3 linked regions of the Homo sapiens genome follow. The protein of the gene in region 1 interacts with the protein of each later gene in a biochemical or structural test. Each region holds a gene or a part of one and is shown in the gene's direction. Other genes may lie near its edges.

Region 1 (7,662 bases):
ACTCACACTTAGAATGTGTGCATGTTTGGGTACACATCTACTGAAATGCAGTACTTAAGAATATGTAGCTTGGGCTGGGTGCGGTGGCTCACGCCTGTAATCCCAGCAGTTTGGGAAGCCAAGGCGGGCGGATCACCTGAGGTCAGGAGTTCGAGACCAGCTTGGCCAACCTGGTGAAACCCTGTCTCTACTAAAAATGCAAAAAATAAGCCGGGCGTGGTGGTGGGTGCCTGTAATCCCAGCTACTTGGGAGGCTGAGGCAAGAGAATCGCTTGAACCCAGGAGGCGGAGGTTGCAGTGAGCCAAGACTACACCATTGCACTCCAGCCTGGGCAACAAGAGCGACACTCCATCTCAAAAAAAAAAAAAAAACAAATATGTGGCTCGTATCTTGAGGCTTCTAAGTATAGTGTTATTTTTCATTGGTTCATAAAGAACTTAAAAGTGATTAATTTTGCTGGGCACAGTGGCTCAAGCCTGTATTTTGAGCTACTCAGGAGACTGAGACAGGAGGATCCCTCGAGCTCAGGAGTTCGAAGCTGCAGTAAGCTATGATCACTATGATCGCACCATTGCACTCCAACCTGGGCTACAGAGGGATACCTCATCTCTTAAAAAAACTTTTTTTTAATGATTAATTTTGGGAAAGGGGGTATGTTACTCCTTTTAACATTTTCATTTACTAAGAGGCACTGTCTACGTTGCATTTCACAGTAAATAGATTTAGTTAAAATGGTGACATTCGTTTCATCTTTCATTGATAGTGGATGTTTAGCAATTACAGTACTTTTCTATCTGGCTTAGCATAGCACACTCTTTGTCTTACTCTTATCTCACTGGCTACTCCTTCTCTGTCTCCTTGACAGTCCTGTATCTTCTCCCGGATGACTCCCTCACATTGCTGCGCCACAAAGCCCAGTCCTCGCTGTACACTCAGCCCCTTGATAATCTCATAACTGAAGCTGAAGCATAATGTTATTTTTCATTGGTTCATAAGGAGCACAAAGATGATAACTTTCTTTTTAAGGTTTTCATCTACAAGGGGGCATTGTCTACACCATGTTTCAAGGTAAATATATTCCATTAAAATGGCAATATTCATTGCATCTTTTATTGATAGTGAATGTTTAGCAACTTCCAGTAACTTTCTCTCTAGCTTGTAGCATTCCACACTCTTGTCTGATCTCCTGGAACCAGTTCCCTCTGTTCTCCAGGATGGCTCCCTGGCCCAGGCACACCTCTGGGCCCAGTCCTTGCAGCTTTTCCTTCCTCCCCACTCCCTTCAAAACTGATCCTCCTGAGGTCTTTGCGATGTCAGGAAATGACAATTCCATCCTTCCAGTTGCTCAGGACAGAAAACCTTGATGTTATCCATGACTCCTCTCTTTTCCTTTATCCCTACCTCCAGGAAATCCTGTTGGCTCTTCCTCCAGAATATTTGCAAAGTCTAAGCACTTCTCACCATCTCCACTGTAGCCTCCATTCCATTCCATTCCATTCCATTCCATTATCGGAATAGTCTCCTAACCCATCTCCCTGCTTCTGCCCTAGTCCACCTAAATTCTGTTACTTACATAGCAGCCTGAGTGTCAAATCATATTGGTCCTCTTCACCAAAGCTTCCAGTGGTTCCCAATTTCTCACAGGCCAAAGACCTTACAATTGCCTACCAGGTTTTATACACTCTGGTCCCTAATTTCATTGAAGGCAAGGCTCAAATGATACCTCCTACTTTGATCATCCCAGTTAAAACTGGAACACCCTTCCCCAGCTCTGTTATTTTCCATAGCATTTATCACATCCCGATTTGGGGAATAGACGCCACAGAATTAGTCCAGGCTGACCACCACACAAACAACAAATCTAAAAATAGCAAACTCTACCACCACCTGGATTGGGAGTGGGTTAATACAGAGTCCAGAGTTGCTACAACATATTATCTAAAAGAAACAGGATGTACAAAGAAACAGCAAAGTGTGACCCATACTCAGGAAAATAAGGAGTCAACAGAAAACTACCTCTGAGGGTTCAGTGTTACTGTGATCAGTGCAATTATAGTTTTTTTTTGTCCTGCATTTTCACATAAGATTATATTAGAAACAATTTCATAAGTCATTAAAACTTCTATGAAAATAATATATATTTTTTTTGAGGCAGAGTCTCCCTCTTTCGCCCAGTCTCCCGGGTTCAAGCACTTCTCCTGCTTCAACCTCCCAAATAGCTGGGATTACAGGCATGTGCCACCACGCCTGGCTAATTTCTTCGTATTTTTAGTAGAGATGGGGTTTCCCGTGTTGGCCAGGCTGGTCTCGAACTCCTGACCTCAAGTAATCCACCCACCTCAGCCTCTCAAAGTGCTGGGATTACAGGCGTGAGCCACCGCACCCGGCCACATTTACCACATTCTAACAGGCCACATAATTTGCTTATTTATTTTATTACCTGACACATGTAATCCGTACAAGGGCTAGAGTTTTCATATGTTTTATTCACTGATGGATCCCCAGTGGGTAGAACAAGACTTGGCATGTACTAGGCACTTACACATACTTATGGAATGAATAAATAAATAGTATAGTAGATTGCAAACCAACAATTTGTGGAATTAAGTAGGAATAAAAATACAACTATGTGAAGATCATTTACTATGTTAATATAATTACATGGTACAGTGGAAAGATCATGGGGTGGCTGGGTGCGGTTGATCACGCCTGTAATCCCAACACTTTGGGAGGCTGAGGTGGATGGATTACTAGAGGTCAGGAGTTCGAGACCAGCCTGGCCAACATGGGAAAACCCATCTCTACTAAAGTTACAAAATTTAGCTGGGCGTGGTGGTGTGTGCCTGTAGTCCCAGCTACTTGGGAGGCTGAGGCAGGAGAATCACTTGAACCTGGGAGGCAGAGGTTGCAGTGAGCCAATCACGCCACTGCACTCCAGCCTGGATGATAGAGGGAGACTCTGTCTCAAAAAAAAGAAAAAAAAAAAAAGTAAAAAGAAAAGTGATTACCAAGACAACTACCACAGACTGGGAATTTCTGAAAAGCCTCAACTTTTCTTTTCTTTTTTTTTTTTTTGAGACAGCGTCTAGTTCCGTTGTCCAGGCTGGAGTGCAGTGGTGCAATCTCGACTCACTGCAACCTCTGCCTCCTGGGCTCAAGCCATACTCCTACCTCAGCCTCCTGAGTAGCTGGGACCGCAGGCCCGCACCACCATGCCAGCTAATTTTTTGTATTTTTAATAGAGACGGGGTTTCACTATGTTCGTCAGGCTGGTTTCCAACTCCTGACCTCTAATGATCCTTCCGCCTCGGCCTCCCAAAGTGCTGGAATTACAGGCGTGAGCCACCACGCCTGGCCTCAATTTCTTAAAAAGCAAAAACAGGAGGGAGGAGGAGGGTATGCAGTATCCTAAATCCTCAGAACCCCTGGGGAAGAACCTCATTCCAACTCCACCAGCACTCCCAGGCCCAGGCTTCTAGCATGCTTCCGACCTCGCTAGCTGCTAAATAAATAGCTATTGAGGAATGTGTATTCTCAAATACTTAGGCTAGAGGGCTAAGAAAAGACAGCTTCCATCTACCTCTGTGGGACTCTACCAGTGTGAAAGGATACTCTCAAGGTATTTAACAACTCCCATTACAGTCCAGAAATTGGTGGGGAAAGTTAAAATATATTTTCTTTTCTTTTTTTTTTTTGAGACGGTGTTTTTGCTCTGTTGCCTGAGCTGGAGTGCAGTGGCTCACGCTTGTAATCCCAGCACTTTGGGAGGCCAAGGCGGGCGATCATGAGGTCGGGGGTTTGAGACCAGCCTAGCCAACACAGTGAAACCCCGTCTCTACTAAAAATACAAAAGTTAGCTGGGCACGGTGGCGAGCGCCTGTAATCCCAGCTACTCGGGAGGCTGAGGCAGGATAATCGCTTGAACCCGGGAGGCGGAGGTTGCAGTCAGCCGAGATCCACTGCACCCCAGCCTGAGCGACAGACTCCATCTCAGAAAAAAACAAGCAAACAAAAACAAAACAAACAAACAAACAAAAACAAGAAAAGAAAAGTTAGCCGAGCATGGTGGGGCACGTCTGTGGTCCTAGCTATTCGGGAGGCTGAGGTGGAAGGATTGCTTGAGCCCGGGAGGTCAAGGCTGCAGTGAGCTGAGATCATGCCTCTGCCCTCCAGCCTGGCCGAGAGTGAGACTGTCTCAAAAAAAAAATAATAATAATAACATAAAAATAAGAAATAAGAGTGAAAGAGGCATCATTGATTGAAGATAACTTGGGGAGGGGTTCATATAGTAAACGTATAGATTGATTGAAAGACACAGCCCAGTTTTAAAACTACATAAATATCCAAAAAAGCACATTTGAAATTCCACGAGACCTTGCAATGTCAAAATAAGGAGGGACGGGAAGCACGGTGATCACACAATGGCTTATGACATACACTCACTACATTTATACCTGGTACAAAGAGCGCAGAAACGTTTCAACTCTTGCTTGAATCAAGAACAGAAGCCTCTCTTTAGACAGGTCAGTGCCACATAGTAATGTATAGCTTAAAATGTTAGTTAATGTACAAAAATCCAAACTCAGCGTTTAGATGTTCGGGAATAATGCATGAACATTTAAATATTCAGAAGTGGAATGTATGCATTTTTAAAGTTTATTTTATGATTTAATTTTAAAAATTTGTTTTAATGTGAAATTCTGGGGTAATTTGTCATGTAGTAATAGATACAAATATGGCAAGCAGGGATTTTTAAATAATGAACAGAAATATCTTAAAGGAGCTATTGGAAAAGATGGAAAGAAAGTGTGAACAACTTGGGAATTTCAGTGTCTTACAGTTTTTTTAAAGCTTGTTATAGTTTAAATCGGAATAAGGAAGCGTATTTCCAAAAGATTGAAGTGATTGTGTTATCTCTCCCACGAAGTAGTCTACTTCAGCAAAACAGTACACCGTGTGCTATTTTGGCCTCTTGGGAAAGATGGTATGTTCAAGTTTGCTAGAAAGAGATAATTATCGCTTTTAGCGACACCTCTCACGGAAAGTTCATCGGGATATTGGTCTAGAGAGAAAATGGCGGCGGGGGGTGGGGGTGGGGGAAGCCGAAATACCTCAGTTTAGGATCTGCTATGGGCAATGGATGCCCTAATTTAAGGTTAATTGTAGATCCACGGGCTTCCAACTGTGTATTTCCGTCATCTACACTTTTCCCAGAAAGAGATGCCATAATAAATTTACAAAACAGTCCTATAGTCTAGTTTTATATTCTTGTCAAGAAAAGGTAATATTTAAAAAGTACTAGCTAGAATTCTATAAAAAACGAACAACAAAAATCACTGCCCTCTGAATGTTCGTTCTTGATTATTTTGACGCAAGTAGAGACAGCTTTTTTAAATCCGGCATTATCTCCGGGTGGTGCAGACATGCAATTTTTTATGAATTTTCCCACCCTTGGGAAATCGATTTCTGAAACGTGTAATTGTTGTGCAGTAAGCCAAGTGGACAGTGACGCAATAGTCCACTGCAAGTTGCCTTACAAAAAATGATGTCATTTGGCGCAGATCTAGTCACTTTTATAACAGGTAGCTATGGAAAAGCTCCCTCCACGTTGTCCCCGATTCCCCCACCCCCACCGTGGCCAAGATGCAAAAAGACACTTTCCTGGCTTCCTAGCCCTCAACTTGTCGAGGGTGGGCGCACCGCAGTGGCTCAGGGCCCATCGCTCGTGCAGGCGGAGAGAGACCGCTGCAAGGGGACGAGGACAGCTGAGTGTCCTCAGCCCCGACGGCGGCGCCGCGGGGGAAGCTGCGTCGGGCCCAGTCCAGGGCCGCGACGCCCGGCCGCCTGTTTTCCTCGGTGGGAAACCGCTGGCGTGGCGGGCCGGCAGCCGGGACGCGGGGCGCCGCGGGCGCGGGACAGCCTTCCCCGCCCCCCCTTCCCCCCCGTTCCCACACCCGCTCCCGCTCCCGTGGCGCCGGAAGTGACGCGTTTTGGGCTGAAAGATGGCGGCATTGGCGCTCGACCAGGGGGAAGGTAAACACCCGCCAGGCCACGGGCTGGCCCCCTCGGGGCGCCAGCAGGGGCCGAGGGGGGGGCCTCCCGGGCCAGCTCCCCGCCCCCAACGGCTTCCCACCCTCCGCCCTCTCTCCCAGCGTGGCGGCCTTCCGCGTCAAGACGACAGCGCACTGGGCCCCCTGCCGGCCAGCCCCGCCTCCCTGGGCGGGCCCCGGGCGGCTCCCGCGGCCCGCAGGGGGCGCGCGGCCCGGAGCGGCCCCCGGCTCGTGGCCCCGCACGCCCCGCCCCTTCCCCGCCCCTTTCCCGCCTTCCTCCACCCCCGGCGTGGGTGATCCCGAGGCTCGGCGCGCTTCGGGGCAGAAGCCCAGAGACGCCGTCCTCGACGCTTCCTCGGCTGGTGCTTCTGTCTCTGCCTGCTGCCCCCCAGCCCTTTTCCCCGCCCGCGGCCCCAGTCGGCCCTCCCGCCGAGCCCCGTCGGGTGCTGCGAGGCCCCCGGCGTTGGCAAGGTCGGTCCGGGCCCCGACGCCGCGCCGCCTCGTGCGGAGCCCGACTGTCTGGTTTCTCGACTCAGCGCTGTCTTCTTTCCCAGGACTTATCCAGAGGGGGCTGCAGGCGAGCACTCTCGTGCCCCGCCGGAGCGACCCGGCTCGTGCCGGGAGCGGCTGCTCGTAGACGTCCGAGGAGCCTGCCGAGTGCCGTCCCGGCGCCCGACCGCCCACCCATCGGCCCGCTGGCCCGGTTCTTCCTGATGCAGACTGCCGTCCACTAGAGGCTGGACAGGACCCCCCGAGGTACGTAGCCGCCCCTGGCCGCCGGCCTGCGGAGCCCGGGCTTCGCCCGCGGCCCCGAGCTAGGCACGAATTCGCCGGCCCTCTCTGCACGGACCCGAGTCAAACATTTGGTAGACGCCGGGACCTCGTTTGTCTTCGAGTTTACTTAAATTGTTTGAAATGTAATTTTTTTTTCCAGAGAGAGCGAGAAAGAAAAAGGAAGAAGCATAATTCAGCCATTTTTTGCAGCACACAGCTGCAGGTACCATGATTATTTTTTGCCTAACCCGTTCCTTCCCTTTAACAATTCAATTTATGCCTGAAATAGAACTATGCAAAATGCGAGGCATAAAACTAGGAATCGGAAGGTCTGGGTTCGACTTGGGTGACTCTGAGAAAAAATCGCGTACCGAGCCTTGGTTTCTTATCTATGAAATATAGTCGGTACTACCAACATCGCAGGGTTGAGAGGACTATATGAGGTCATATATGTGAAAATAATCCTTAACTGTAGAGTGTTGTAAGAATGCAAGGCCGTTTTTTAAGTAACCTTTGGTAGAGTGGTTAATGTAGTGGCTAACTGTTGCTGCCTCTTTATTTCTATATTATAAATATAAGCAAATAAGTACGGAATAATAGTAAAGCAGTGCTGTGAATCCATAGATCTGTAATAGTCACGTTGCTTGGCCTTCCTCCTACGAAGTGCTAACTGCTTATTTAAATAACGGTATTCTTTAATTCAAATGTAACGTTACCGTAGGGGCTTTGCTTTTCATCGTTCTAGGCCGCTTTAGGCCCCTTTTCTTACTCCAAATATTTAACACCTTACATTTGTTAGTCTTTTCTGTTTTCCGAATTTGTTTGCCTTTGTTAATC
Region 2 (7,034 bases), on another chromosome or scaffold:
TCAGACTGCTGTTGGAGAATATACTGTAATGGAGAACAGAGTGGATAACAGATTTTTTTTTTTTTTTAAAGGAGGATATTGCCGTAGAAGAGGTTGATGGTAGCTTGAACCAGGGTGGACACAAAGGTGAGAAGCAACTGGATTGTTTGGGCAGGTGTGTGTGTGTGTGTGTGTGTGTGTGTGTGTGTGTGTGTGTGTGAAGAGACAGGCGGGTGTGTGTGTGTGTGTGTGTGTGTGTGTATGTGTGTGTGTTTAAGAGACAGGTTCTGGCTGTCATTCAGCCTATACTGCAGTTTCTCAAATCTCAAGTGAGCCTCCCGCGGGCCTCCCACAGCGTTGAGGTTACAGATATGAGCCACCCTATCTGGCCTCAGGTTGTATTTTTAACTGCAAATGGTTTTGCCTAATTCGTAGGGTTGAGAAAGAAAAAAGCAAGTTTAGGAAGATCACACTTGTGGAGCTCAATTGTCTTGTTTAATCAGGAGGCCAGGTTGTCCACCTAGAGTGAAAATAGCTTCAGAGGCTTGAGGACTGAAAATAGTAAAGGTCTGGAAGACAGCAGAGAAAATAAAAAGAGCTGAACAAAGGCTATTTTAAGGATTAACTGATGCCCTGCATGAAGTTTGAAACCATATGACTTTAGTGATATCAGTCTAACGTGATACGTCATTTTCCCTTCACAACACTCAACTACCCAGCTGCAGGAGTTAAGCATAGATTCTAGAATCTACAGGATTTCATTTGTAAATGGCTTGAGTTAGATGACTTTTAAATCTACGTGAGTTCCAAAACTTTACTTTTAAGAATCCTAGAGTCTGTACTGCTATCACACAATTTATTTTAAATTGGTGCCTAGATATACATAATGTAAACTTACCATTTTAACTATTTCACTAGTTTATTTAAATTCAGCATTCTAGCCAGGGGCCTCCAATAGGTGTGCTGGGACATTAAAAACCTAGCCCTGAAGGTGGCAGCACTGGGCCTGAGGTGACTAGTCTCAACTTCTGTTGCCACTGGATGGAAGCAGCCTCATCTTTTCATTACAATATATAACACAAGTGTTCATTTTCTAAGCATGCTGAAATTGAAAAAGTTTGGGAAGTACTGTCCTAAGCCACAACATATGAGAAACCCAGTATTATGAAGAGTTCAAAATAACTGCTTCTCTGTTAAAGATGTTTTTTCAGCAGATCTTTGGAACCTCAAAATTTATTCCATGTGGTTCTTAAAGCTTTAGAACCTATCTATGAGGATGCCCGCCATTTCCATTGTTAAAGTGGCCATATAAAATCTCATTTAAAAATCTAAGAATTTTGAATGTACCCAAAGGTTTCCATTTACATAGAAATGGGATCCACCAGGGAATGCCCATTTCATTCATTCATAGAATATTGATTTGGTGGCAGACACTGGGCTAGTTCCTGGAGATAAAAGGGTGAACAAACCTTTTTTATTTTTTATTTTTTTAATTTTAAGACAGGGTCTCTCGCTCTGTCACCTAGGCTGGAGTACAGTGGCACAATCATAGTTCACTGCAGCCTTGAACTCCTGGGCTCAAGCAATCCTCCCACCTCAGCCTCCACAGTAACTAGAACTAGAGGCACGAACCACTGTGTCCAGCTATTTTGGTTTGATTTTTAGAATAGGAGACAAGATTTCACTATGTTGCCCAAGCTCATCTTGAACTCCTGGCCTCAAGTGATCCTCTTGCCTCAGCCACCCAAAGTCTGGCCCAAGACGTGGTTTTTTATCTCAAGAAATTTACAGTCCAGTGGGGAGACAGAATTAATTAAATAACTAAAACAATAAAAACTGTAAGATGGGGAGGTTACATGGTACTGTAGGAGGATCTAGTAGAAGAGACTATTGAAATAAGATAAAAACATGATTAGTAGATAGCTGGGGCAAAGAGTGGGGGTAGGTTTGGTGGAGAACTCCAGGCAGAGACAATAGCACGCAATGGCCTAGGAGACATCAAAAGTCTAGTGAGACCAGAGGACAGAAAATGTCTGGAAATAAAGCCAAAGGGGTAGCAGAGGCAATTCAAAGGGGCTTCCTTCACAGAGTAACTGGAAGCCACTGAAAGGGTTTAAGCAGCATAGTGACATTAACAGATTTACTTTTCAAGATCACAGTAGCTGCAGTATAGAGAAGTGGTCTCAAAGTAGACACAATTTAAGGTGGAGGAGGGAAGATGTATTTTTATTCTATTTTTTATCCTTTAAAAATGCTTTTAAAATGGATTATAATCATATTAGCTAAGAAATACTAATTATGGCTAGCTTTTGGGCACATAGTATATATCTGAATACTAAGCAGTTTACATATATTCATTTAATCTTAATACCCTGTGAGGTTGGTACTATTATTATCCTCAATTTACAGGTAGGTAAAATGGGACAGCGAGCTTAAGCAGTCAGTCCAAAGTCACTCAGTAAGGAAGTATTAGAGCAGGATTTAAACCCAGATGTCTGACTTCAGAGCCTGTAACTTCATTAGATCATGTACCATTTTTCAACAGTACATGTATGTAATTTAAAATTAAATATATATATGGAGAATAGAAGTTCAAATTTTTTTCTGAACACCAGTGAAAACAAAGATTTAGGAGGGGTGGTTGGTAGCGTGGATGTGGAAAGGAGCCTAGCAGTAGACTAGGTAAGAAATAACAGTATCTTGGATTATGGAGGTAGTGATGGAGAGAAGGGGATGGATTTACATGTTTAGTAAGTAAAATTGGACTGCGTGATGGCTTGGATATGGAAGTTAGGGATGAATAAAGTGTCAAGGATGACTCTTTGGTTTCTGACTTGCATAAATGGATTAGAGAGTGAGACACAGGCAGAGGCCATAGGAACAGGTTGGGTCATTCTGCTCAGTTTTTCTTTGGACCACAGTAGAGACCACAGCACACTGCTCTTTCAATACTCTGTTAAATGACAAACTTATTACAGGTTATTTCTGTCATAAACATAAAAGCTTCACTCTGTCAATTATGTTTCCTATCTTGCGTTAAAAATTACATAGTCAAAATTTCATCCATTTTCTTTTAAAAATGTGGAGTTAAGTCTTATAAAATGGGGAAGTGAATGATAGTTGCTGTAACAGGCTAATAGAAGGTTTAGCACCCCTCTTCTGTATACTAACTTTTTAAGTTATATTTATTCATCCCTTAAGATGTGGGACAGGTGGAAAAATTACCTTTCCACTTTGTATTTATGATTTCTAAGTACTAAACTTTTAAAGCCTGTTAATATTATCCCTTCCCAGGTCTTAGAATAATTACACAAAAGTACTGGACTGGTTTAAAAGATATTTGATTCTAGTCTATTTTGTTCATTTGTAGAATTTCTAGTGGTCTAAAAACGATTCTTTTACAAATCAGGAGAAATAGGAATACCTACTATCGGTTTGAATCTCAAACGAACAGCCACAAGAAAAATGGACTTTTTAAAAAAAATTATCTAACAGCATGTTGTCCCAATAAATAATGCTGAAGGAGATTCCTTCTCGTTTCAAATTTGCCAGAAACTTCCCGTTTAACCTCAGCAAAATACAGATCGTTTTGATCTATGGCGTTACCGCACAACCCTGTCAGGTCACATCACTAAACTGCAGATAACAGCGACAAGGCCGAAAACTATGTTAGACGGATCCGCGTCCATACCCCCCATCAGTTAATTTTAACTCTTCATTCGGTACAGGTCACTCTACACATGCTTCCCTGCAAAATGCTTAAGCTAGACACAGTGTACAGATAACTTTCACAGAACCGCAAGGGCTTGATGCTCCCCCAACAGAACGGCTTGAGCTTTCCCCAGCGCAATTCAGAAATGCTGTGGCGGTCGCCAGACTCTTCGGGTAGCTCCCGGCAGCTCCGAGGTAGCGCTCCCCTCCCCAACCATCGCCCTCCGGGATGGGCCGCACCGAAGAGCCCGCTCCTCAGCTAGGGCACGAAGTGCGCCGCCGCGATGGGCAGCTGGAGGAAGGGGCGTGACGCAAGTGGAACTCCCGCGTGACGTCGCGCGGGCTCCCGGGCGGGGCGGGTCCGGCCGCCTCCGAGCCCGGCCGGCAGCCCCCGGCCTTAAAGCGCGGGCTGTCCGGAGGGGTCGGCTTTCCCACCGAGGATTTGGCACTCTGGTGAGGGAAAAGGGCGAAAGAGAAAAGCGAGCAGCCGTCCTTTCACAGCCTCAGAAAGTGCTCGCTTCCCTTCGGGGGCTTTCGCGAATCCCGAGGCAATCTCGGAGGCGGTGAGTAAAAGCAATCTCTTTACCCCACCCGGAGCTCTGGGTCGGAGCGACTGCTTCTGGTCTGGAGCTGCGTGCTTGGCGAAGGGCTCCCGGGGTAGGGGTGGCTCCCGGCTCTGGGGTTGTGTCTGATGAAATAGGCCGGGCCCGGGCTACACTCGGTGGTGGTGGACCGGCGGGAGGACGAGCGCTACCTCAGTACTACTTCTGGGTCTCCCGCGCGGGCTGAGGAAGCGCCTTTCGCCGCCAAGCCCGCCCCGCGCATGCGCCGACTGCGGCTCGCGCGCGCGCTTCGGAGGTTTTTTGGCCAGACCCGCACGCGGAACCGGCGCGGGCACCTGGGGAGAAATGGATGGAGAAGGGACCTGGCTGGAAAGCCTTTGCCCCGCTGCTCTGCTCCGCCCATAAGAGGACCCCTGAAATGTCCCGTGCAGTTTGTTCAAGTCCCCTGTGTGATGAAATGTGCCTCTCGCCTTACCCGTGTGAGAATACCTGTGGTGTGGCAGCGAGTATTTTGGTGAGCACCTGCAGTGTAGTGGTTTATACTAAGGAATACACACAAATTACAGGCCTTTGAGCCCAGAATGCAACTTGGGAGGTAAGACGTGACGTTCTGAGAGATTGAAAAATGTACATTGTCGTCGTGCCTCGAATAACGGTTCATTGCAGAGAGAGATGCTAACAAAAAGTGCCGGGCATGCGGGTAGGTGGAAAGGGTTTTGCGAGCCAGAATTTGCAAGTTGAATGTTTTGTTTTTATGTTTTGTTTTTAAGGCACTGTACATCACTTACTTGAAGATAGATACGTAAAGGATGCTTATTTTACACTCTTTAAACGAATATGTTAATACTTTTTCGGTCATTGAAGTAATTAAACCTTCATTTTAAACTGTTGACTTAATAGAAATCGTTTATGTCTTCTTTTTTTTTCTTTTTGCTGCAGAGAGGTATTTTTTCTTTATTTTATTATTATTTTTTATACTTTAAGTTCTAGGGTACATATGCACGACGTGCAGGTTTGTTACATATGCATACATGTGCCATGTTGGTGTGCTGCACCCATTAACTCGTCATTTACTTTAGGTATATCTCCTAATCCTATCCCTCCCCCCACCCCACGGCAGGCCCCGGTGTGTGACGTTCCCCTTCCTGTGTCCAGGTGTTCTCATTGTTCAGTTCCCACCTATGATTGAGAACATGCGGGCTACAGAGAGGTATTTTACAGTTATTGGTCTCATGACTTGATTTCCATCCCTGACATAGCCATGTCCCAGCTGTGTGACCTTGGACATTTACTGCCTTACGCCTCTTCCCCCAACTCTAAAATGAAATTATAGTAGCTGTCTTACAGAGTTTTTCTGAAGGTTAGGTAGAATATAAATATTCTATAATATATAATTATATATTAAATAATATATAAATACAAATATTAATATTAATATTCTATAGTTTCTGGTATGTGGGAAACAAATGGTGACTTTTATTCACAATTATATATAGGCCCATTTGTTTATCTGTTAGAGTTAAAGATAGAATAAAAACCTCTTTGGTAACAAAACTAATGCAGTGCACCTAATTCTACTTTTAAAAACTTTTTTACAGAAATAAATGTACACAAGAGAAATACTGGAATTATGAACCCCATTGTATACGCACCCACCCAGCTTCAGAAATTGTTGAAGTTCAGCCCTTGTTTCATCTCTTCACCCAACATCCATTTTTGTTTGTTTTTGCTGGATTTTTTTTTTTTCAAGCAAATCGCAGAGTATATCCCTTTACCTGTAAATATCTCGGTAAATATCCCTTTAACAGATAAGGCCTTTCTAAAAAAAAAACAAACAAAACCGCATCATTATCATACCCAAGAAAATTAATAATTTCCTAATATCTAAAATCCAGCTCATATTTAGTTTCTGGATTATTTTTTAAAAGTCTAATCACAATTTTTGCAAAGCTTGATAGTTTATTTTTGTAGCTCTTGACGGTTCACCAAGTGGCTTCACATATACTCCTGCTCCCTTCAGAATTACTCTTTCAGCCCCTTTGTCAGAGACCTCAGGAAATGGTTAGCAGGAAACAATCAGTTTGCTTTGGCTAAGGAGCCAGATGTGAGGTTTAGTAGACTTGCTGATCACTATTACTTTTTAAGTTGTAGCTAATTAATGGTTTCATTTTAAGAACACATATTAAAATATTTACTAATCCATTCAAACTTCTTAACCTGTTGGTTTCTTCAAGGACTATGTAATAAACTTAATGATTCACCTTTATTCTAAGAGAGGCATGAAGTAACATTACCCTAATTGTCTTATGACTCTAAGATGTTTCTGTATTCATAGATCTTTGCTGTGTTTAAATCTTACTGACTTCTCTTGTTTTTGGAAAGTTATACAGATCCTCATCTGTGTTAATACATCAGTCAACTGTCTCTTTTATAAAATATATATAGATATGTGTATATATGTGGATGCTTGTTAAGTCAAGACTAAGAATATTTTTCAGTTTTGGGCTCAGTATGTTTCACCAATTCAAAAGTTAAAAAAACCAATTTTTTTTTTTAATTGAGACAGGGTCTCTGTCGCTCAGGCTGGAATGCAGTGGCACGATCTCCGCTCACTGCAAATTCCGCCTCCCAGTTTCAGGCAATTCTCCTGCCTCAACCTCCTGAGTAGCTGGGGCCACAGGCACGCACTACCACACCTGGCAAATTTTTGTATTTTTAGTAAAGATGGGGTTTCACCATGGTGGCCAGGCTGATCTCAAACTCCTGGCCTCAAGTGATCTG
Region 3 (7,205 bases), on another chromosome or scaffold:
CAAAATCCCATGCACAAATTAATAGGATCATAGAAAAGTCATACTAGGAACATGAAGAAAGAACATCAAATAGGATGAGTTTTAAGTTCTCTCTTGCTCCAAGCTCTAGAGGTTGCTCATGTATACATCTCACTTTATTCTTTCCTCTAGTAGAAAAAGGTCCCTCTGGTTTGCCTAAGAAGACTTTTTTTCTGTGCAACAAAACATAAATACAGCATACCTTCATAGTAGACATTCTTTTTCTTTAAATGCTGTCAATTGGAGGCAGATAGGAGCTACCCAGACCTTAGGTATGGTGGAGAAATAATGGTTCAGACTAGGTTTTCCCTTGAATCTATCCCAACTTCTATCTTTCAAGAATTATTTACAGAGTTCTCAGCAATGTCATTCCTGCTAATGGGCGTGACTTCCAAAGCACACATGTTTTGACACTTATAGAAACACTGCAGGTGAGTAATAAGACAAAATGCCGAAGGTGAATGGTGACAGATGAGGAAAGGTTCATCACAAAGCAGACATATGGAACTAGACCTTAAAAACCTTGCCACTGCCCAGTTTATATACCTTTACTGCTGTGCCCCCTAGTGAAGGTGAATGAGTTAGTTTATAGCAGAGATGCCTCTGTAAGGGCAGGACACAGCCTCACCCTTGCAGCCCCCAAATGCACCTAACAATGCCAAGAGCACTGCTGTAGGGGTATTCCCTTGTCACCAAAGCACTGAAGCTGTTACCCTGACAAGGCCTGGAACTGTTTGGAAGTGAGAGAGTAAAGGTGGGGGAAAATTAATTTGCAGAGTTAGAAATAACTTCCTCTGTCCAAATAACTCAGAGCTTTTCAAATACCCAGAACATCTAATGGAACATAGGATGAGCCTGACCTCGTTCCTTTGCCCAAGACTAAGAGCCTGAAGCTCTGCATCCAGCAGAACTGTTGGAGTCGAAGGAAGAGAAAGAGCCGCAGTTGCAGGAAAAAAGAGATCGAATCATCACTCTTAACTTAAACACCAATGCCCTTGGTAGCCTCCCTCTGCTTTCACACAGTTCTATCTCCTTCTCTCTCAGCCTCACTTGAGTTCATTATCACAGCTCCTGTCAAGGACTGAGGACCCACCAGAGCAAGCTGGAGGCAGGTTGCTAGTGCAGCTCAGAGTGTGCACTCCAGAGCCTGATACCGGGGCTCAGTTCCCTCCCCTTCTGTCACTTTTTCTGTGTGATCTTGGACAAATGATGTCATATCTCTGTGCTTCATGCTCCATTAAAGTAAAGAGAATGAAAGTACCTACATCATAAGATGGCTTTAGAGATGAAATGAGGTTTTGACAGATAAAGCACCTGGCTAATAATGACAAGCCAGCATATTGGGTATGCCCGTTATTATTGCCACTCCGTGCTAGTGGGTTCAGGAAGGATTACCTTCAAAACAGAGAACCCAGGCTACTACTCTCTGAACCTTATTCATCTATTTGGCATCTACAGCTGAGTTGCTGAATGTAGCTGGAGAAAAATATTCAACTATGCTTGATGAGCCTTATTTGACATACATGTCCAACAACGTCAAGTGTCCCCTGGTGCCTTCCAGAAATCTGACACTGTTTCTCAACCCTTTCTCTCTCCTGCTCACTCTTAGTTGATAACCATGCTGGCTGCTTTCACTGGAAAAGAGAAACCAGGAAAGAATCGCCACATACTCCAGGACAGCACCTTTCACCTCAGAGTCTACTCGACAGCTCCACATGTAGACATCTCTAAACCATTGTACCCAAAAGTGAACATGGTACCTACTCCTTCCACTTGCTCAGGAGAAAGATCAGGGAGTCATCTTTGACTCCTGTTTTTCTCTCCACACCTCAGAGTTGACCCAAGTCCTATCTGCTCTTTCCCTAAACAAAAGGAGAATCTGACCAGTCCCCATCACTGCTCATGCCCTGGTCCAGGCCAGAATCTATCACTCAGGTTATAACTGGTCTCCCTCCCTTTGCCTTTGCACCCTTAGGATCCATTGCAACACAGCAGATTCAGCAATCCTTTCTGTGAGGTCTCTTCTTCCTCAGAATAAAGGGCCTATGTAAACTGATCATCCTCTCCCCCAGCTGCTTACTCACTCCTCTCCCACCACACTCCCTCCAGGATTCCTGCCTCTAGGCCTTTATGTTTGCTGTTTCCTATGCTTGGAGAGCCTTCCCCTCACCCCAAACCCAGACATCACTGTGGCTCATTCATCTCCTGCAGGCTTCTGCTCCAGTGCTACCTCATCCAGTGAAGCCCTGACTACTTGCCCTGTATAAAATAATACACCCCCGACAAGATCTCCCAGGCTCTTTTTCCATACACTTTTGTTCTATGATTTTATCACCATCTAAACATCTTATTTATTTACTTGGTTATATAATCTGTCACCTGACACTGGGTCAAAAGCACTGCAAGGATATTTGGCTCACTGCTGCATCTCAAGTGCGTAGTAGGTATTCAGTAAATATTTGTTGAATAAAAGACTGCATGAATGGTGATCTCTAATGCCTGTGAGCAAATCAGCTTAGAAAATGAGAATCTACCACTTATTTAGTCTTACTGGATGCCACTGTCTATACAAGCAAGCTTGATTAATCCATATCATCTACATGAGAAGCTCATCAACCCATCCTAATGTCCTACAGCTAAAAGGGCCAAGCCTAGGTTCAGATCCAAGGCCATCTGATTCAAAGAGCATGTACAATGAAAGATTTAACAGCTCACATCAGAAGAGGAGGTGTTTGCAGAAATAATTACTGTTTAAAATAATAACTGACCTTCTCGATATGTTTCCTCTCCAGGTTCATGACTACCTCCGCAGCAAGCTGTGTTCCCTCTATGAAAATGACTGCATTTTTGATAAATTTGAGTGTGTGTGGAATGGGTCAGACAGGTAAGAAAGGCTCTGTGGCTGAAGAACCTTCCAAAGATTGTCTTGAAGAGGCTCAGGGAATTTATCCTAAGTAGAGTACAGCCAAAGGGAGGTCAAAATTGGGCCCCAAAACCTGGCTGAAATGCATAATGTGGGCCCCTAGTGACCCTTGAAGTCAAGGCTGGAAAGAAGAGAAGGATGTAGTAAGGCCTTTGAATCCTGTTTCTGAACTGGCACAGATAACACCTTAATGTTAATAAGAAAGTCCTATCTTTTTCACACAAGACACCTCCAGCACTAGGTCAACATGCCTAAATGAAGATCACTTATCCACCAGCAAATTCCAGCCTGAACAGTTCAGATTAATGCCAAGTAGGCTTTCCAGATCAAAAATTATCCCTTGAAGCTGCTAGTGGAGACCTGGCCAACGGCCCTGGTAGTTCATTAACTGAATTCTAGTCAACCTCATTTATCACATTCCCTCAAAGTGATTTATTACTATTTTAAGGCCTTTGATTTGAACAGTGCTTCATAATACCTCCCAATAGTTCATTTTTAGTTTGACAAATACAAATGATTCTCTGATTTCCATGAGAACTAAGTGCAAGCTACCAGGGGCTGATTTCGTTCCTTGATGAAGGTGGCACCAATAATAGTGTTTGAAAGCATAGAAATTCTGTTATGGCAAGACATTCAGAGATTCAAGCTTTCAGTGAATATGAACTGTCTCTCTCTCACACTCCACCTGTTTCTTGGCTTTCTTTGCCACTGATCCAAAATGAATCCCCTCCTTAGCAGGCTTGGAAGGAGTCTCCACGTGGCAAAGGACCCAAGTCACACTGACCAGTTGGTATAGGACAGAGAGCAAAGCAACTGTGACATAAGAACAAAATCCACCATGGGAAAAAGAAGCCAGCCCTCTCATTTTATTATTTATTTATAGGTATTTATTTATTCATATATTATTATTTACATATCTGTTATTATTGCTCAAGTTTTTCCTCTATCTTAGCCTTGATTCAAAAATTACACTTATTAGGCACCTACTATATACCAAACACATTCGTACACATCATTTTATTTAATCCCAACCACAGTCTAACAAGATTGCTTCCATCGTTCTCATTTTACAGTTAAGGAAACTGAGGCTTAGCAAGATAAAGTAATCTGCCCAACCTCATAAAGTAGTAAGTAGTAGAGACAAAAGTAACAAGTTTAGAGTTTGAATCCTAAGATCAACACTCTTTCTATAACATCACAACTGGGAAGTTTAATTTCTCTTTCAGATAAGGTTGGTAGTCTTTTTTTTTTTTTTTTTGGAAAATAATCTCTTACTTGTTTAAAAATAAGTCGGGTCATGGTGGGCAAGCAAACGTCAAAGTATGGGAAGCAGTGAGGCCAACCGGCTGAATACTTATGCCCCAGAGTCAACCATATGTGGGTTTGAGGGTGGACTTTACCACCAATTAGCAATGTGACACTGAGCAAATTACTTCTCTGTAAAACCCTTTTAGGGGATAATAGAAGTTGAAACGAGATCATGGAGGCAAAGCCCTCAGCGCCCTGCCTGACAAGGTGATAACAGTCCACTCGAGTACACAGACACAGTTCACAGTATCAGTTTGATGAGCCAGAGTAACAAAATCTAACCTTTGCTTAATTTACCTGGTACAGGTGACAACGTGCCCAAAAACACATCCCCCTTGCTGTGGCCCAATCTTGTCAGCTTTTTCCTTCACCTCTCTACACATCCCAAATCATTTGAGAAATACACGAGAGTTCCTGCTCTCCCATCTTAAGGAGCCAGTCAGAGCTCCACCCAGAAATGAGTAGGAGCCCCCCACTCCAGGGGAACCACCGTGTGATGGCACTTGGGGTACTTGCCCTGGCCCAAGGAATCTCTCCCTCCCCACCTCAGCTTGTCACCGTGTCTGAAATGTCACCATTAAACATTCAGTACCTTGCCTCTGGAAGACATTGGGTGTTTGCCACTCTCCTGATCGATTGCAGCTATGCCTAAGAGGGGATAACTTATAAAAATGTGGAAACCATCTGTCCATTAAGTGTGGGAAAAAAACCATATAAAATCTTTTTATTTCTCCATCCCAGATTCTTTTAAAATTTGAATTTCCTTACTTGTTTCCTAGATAAGACCATGATGACATCCATTTCGTAGATAAGTTTTCTAAAAAGGCCGAATTCAGAGCTAGTTCTCGGCAGGGGAGAGGTCGCGCCCCGGGTTCGTGCACGATGCCACTAGCATCTCTCCCCTCACTGCACTGATGCCATGAAGCCTTAGAGGCCAGACGGCCCAGGAACCCTGTTGACAGTGGCCAAACCTTAAACACGTACAACTGCTTATTGTTTTCAAAAGTGTGTCTACTTCGACAAACCTCATTCTAGTCTCACATTCCTGATGGGAGGTAGGTAGGACTGGGATCATTAAAACCAGTGGACACCTTTTCTGAGCCAAAGAAGCAAAAAGAATCTATTGAGCAAAAGCAAATTACAAGGAGAGTTCTCACCATCCCTCATTTCCAAACCCAGCCAAAAATCCTATTGCTTTCAGTGATTCAAAAAAAAAAAAAAAAAACACAAAAAAAAAACAAAAAGCCAATAATCACACTGCAGAGCCTGTTCTCATTTTTTGGTTTTTGTTTTTAATAAAACCTATGGTGTCATAAGCTGGCCATAACATGGTATCATTTGCTCCAAAAAGAAAAGACAGTGAAGATATGTCATTGCCTTTGCTCTCTGCCTTGCAGTGTCATCATGACAGGCTCCTACAACAACTTCTTCAGGATGTTCGACAGAAACACCAAGCGTGATGTGACCCTTGAGGCTTCGAGGGAAAACAGCAAGCCCCGGGCTATCCTCAAACCCCGAAAAGTGTGTGTGGGGGGCAAGCGGAGAAAAGACGAGATCAGTGTCGACAGTCTGGACTTTAGCAAAAAGATCTTGCATACAGCTTGGCATCCTTCAGAAAATATTATAGCAGTGGCGGCTACAAATAACCTATATATATTCCAGGACAAGGTTAACTAGGTGGACAAGTTATTACTTAATAATCTCACATACTGAATACTAGTCAAACAAGTTTTTAAATGTTTCTTTGGGTCTTCATTTGATGCATTGACTTTAATTTCCCTATACAGGAAATGATTGGAATAGAATTAAAAGGAGTCCAACATTCCCAGCTCCCCAGTTCTAAGAAACTTTTGTCAAACCCAATAGGTTTGGGACACTTCTGTTTAGAATTGAAAGCTGCCAGCTAACAGTAATTCTTCCATAGTTGACTTGAACTTCTGATGCTTTTATTGCCCAGTTTTCTCTGGTGGGTCCAGTGTTTTGTTCCTAGGTGTCTGCTGCGATAAAATGAGGTTGTCTGTAGTATTTAAGGAGAAAAGAGATAAGTTTTTTTTAATTAAGCAATTCCATTTGATTGAAAAAAATCAACAAAAAATAAACACCGTTTACTCTTAGACAAATTCTTCTTGTTTTGTGAAAAACCAGAACTAGTCAGTATCTCCTGCCCCTCCACCATTTTTTTTTCCATTTTCCATTTTCCTTTGAACAATTTCATTTAAGCCAGAGATTTATTGCATGAAGCTGAGAAGAGGATGCAGAATGACAAGGAAAGGGCACATCAACCCTGCTATGCTCTTTTTTTGTAAGCTCCATAGAAACAGCCTGAGAATTTGGCTAGGGAACTTGAATGCTTCAGGGGACAGAAAGAGAGCACTTTCGACACAGTGCTTCCCAGAGTGAGCTTGGCAGGGCCAGGCGGGGCCAAATTCCATCTGCTGCCTTGTTACTCTTGCTTTTTGTGCTCTTAAATGGCTCCATATAATCTTCTACTTACATGTTCCTTGGCTTTTTTCTCTTCAACCTTTTCCAGCTTATTTATTCCATTGACTTCTAAAGGCCGAGTCCTGGGTGCTTATTATCTGGTGTTCTAAATGAAGCAGTAAGTTGGAAGCAGTGCCACCACCCCTGAGTCCCTGAGAAAGGCTGGTCTGTTCTTTTTGGGTGTTTCTCCTAAGCAGCACCCTCCCCTCCTCCTGGTTTTGGTAACCAAAAGTAACAATCCATCAACCTCCATTGTACCTAGAACAAAAATAGCCAATAAAAACGCTGAGTTGTGAAGTCCAATCAGGCACTTCTAACTCACCCCAAGCTCGCCATCTGGAAAAACAGACCAGAAGGCTCTCTTCTACAGAAATGAACTGTGGGGAAATCAAGCAGCTGTGACATGAAGTGAATGAAGTCCACTTGAAGCTGTGGAAGATGGTTCATCCTTTTCCCCAGTTGAGGATCCAGATTT

What was found.
Region 2: the proteins of KLHL15 (region 1) and RBBP8 form a complex in vitro, tested with the Homo sapiens proteins (2 studies listed by BioGRID, with this or other methods).
Region 3: the proteins of KLHL15 (region 1) and PPP2R2B form a complex in vitro, tested with the Homo sapiens proteins (one study listed by BioGRID).

Annotation. Positions count from the first base shown.
Region 1 is NC_000023.11:24,024,002-24,031,663, reverse strand, and holds the start of KLHL15 (kelch-like protein 15), read left to right. Parts: upstream 1-4,477; 5' UTR 4,478-4,524; intron 4,525-6,605; 5' UTR 6,606-6,807; intron 6,808-7,662. UniProt on the Homo sapiens protein: Substrate-specific adapter for CUL3 E3 ubiquitin-protein ligase complex.
Region 2 is NC_000018.10:22,929,312-22,936,345, forward strand, and holds the start of RBBP8 (DNA endonuclease RBBP8), read left to right. Parts: upstream 1-4,016; 5' UTR 4,017-4,253; exon of another isoform or gene 4,254-4,953; intron 4,954-7,034. UniProt on the Homo sapiens protein: Endonuclease that cooperates with the MRE11-RAD50-NBN (MRN) complex in DNA-end resection, the first step of double-strand break (DSB) repair through the homologous recombination (HR) pathway.
Region 3 is NC_000005.10:146,588,668-146,595,872, reverse strand, and holds part of PPP2R2B (serine/threonine-protein phosphatase 2A 55 kDa regulatory subunit B beta isoform), read left to right. Parts: intron 1-2,810; coding exon 2,811-2,902; intron 2,903-5,646; coding exon 5,647-5,926; 3' UTR 5,927-7,205. UniProt on the Homo sapiens protein: The B regulatory subunit might modulate substrate selectivity and catalytic activity, and might also direct the localization of the catalytic enzyme to a particular subcellular compartment.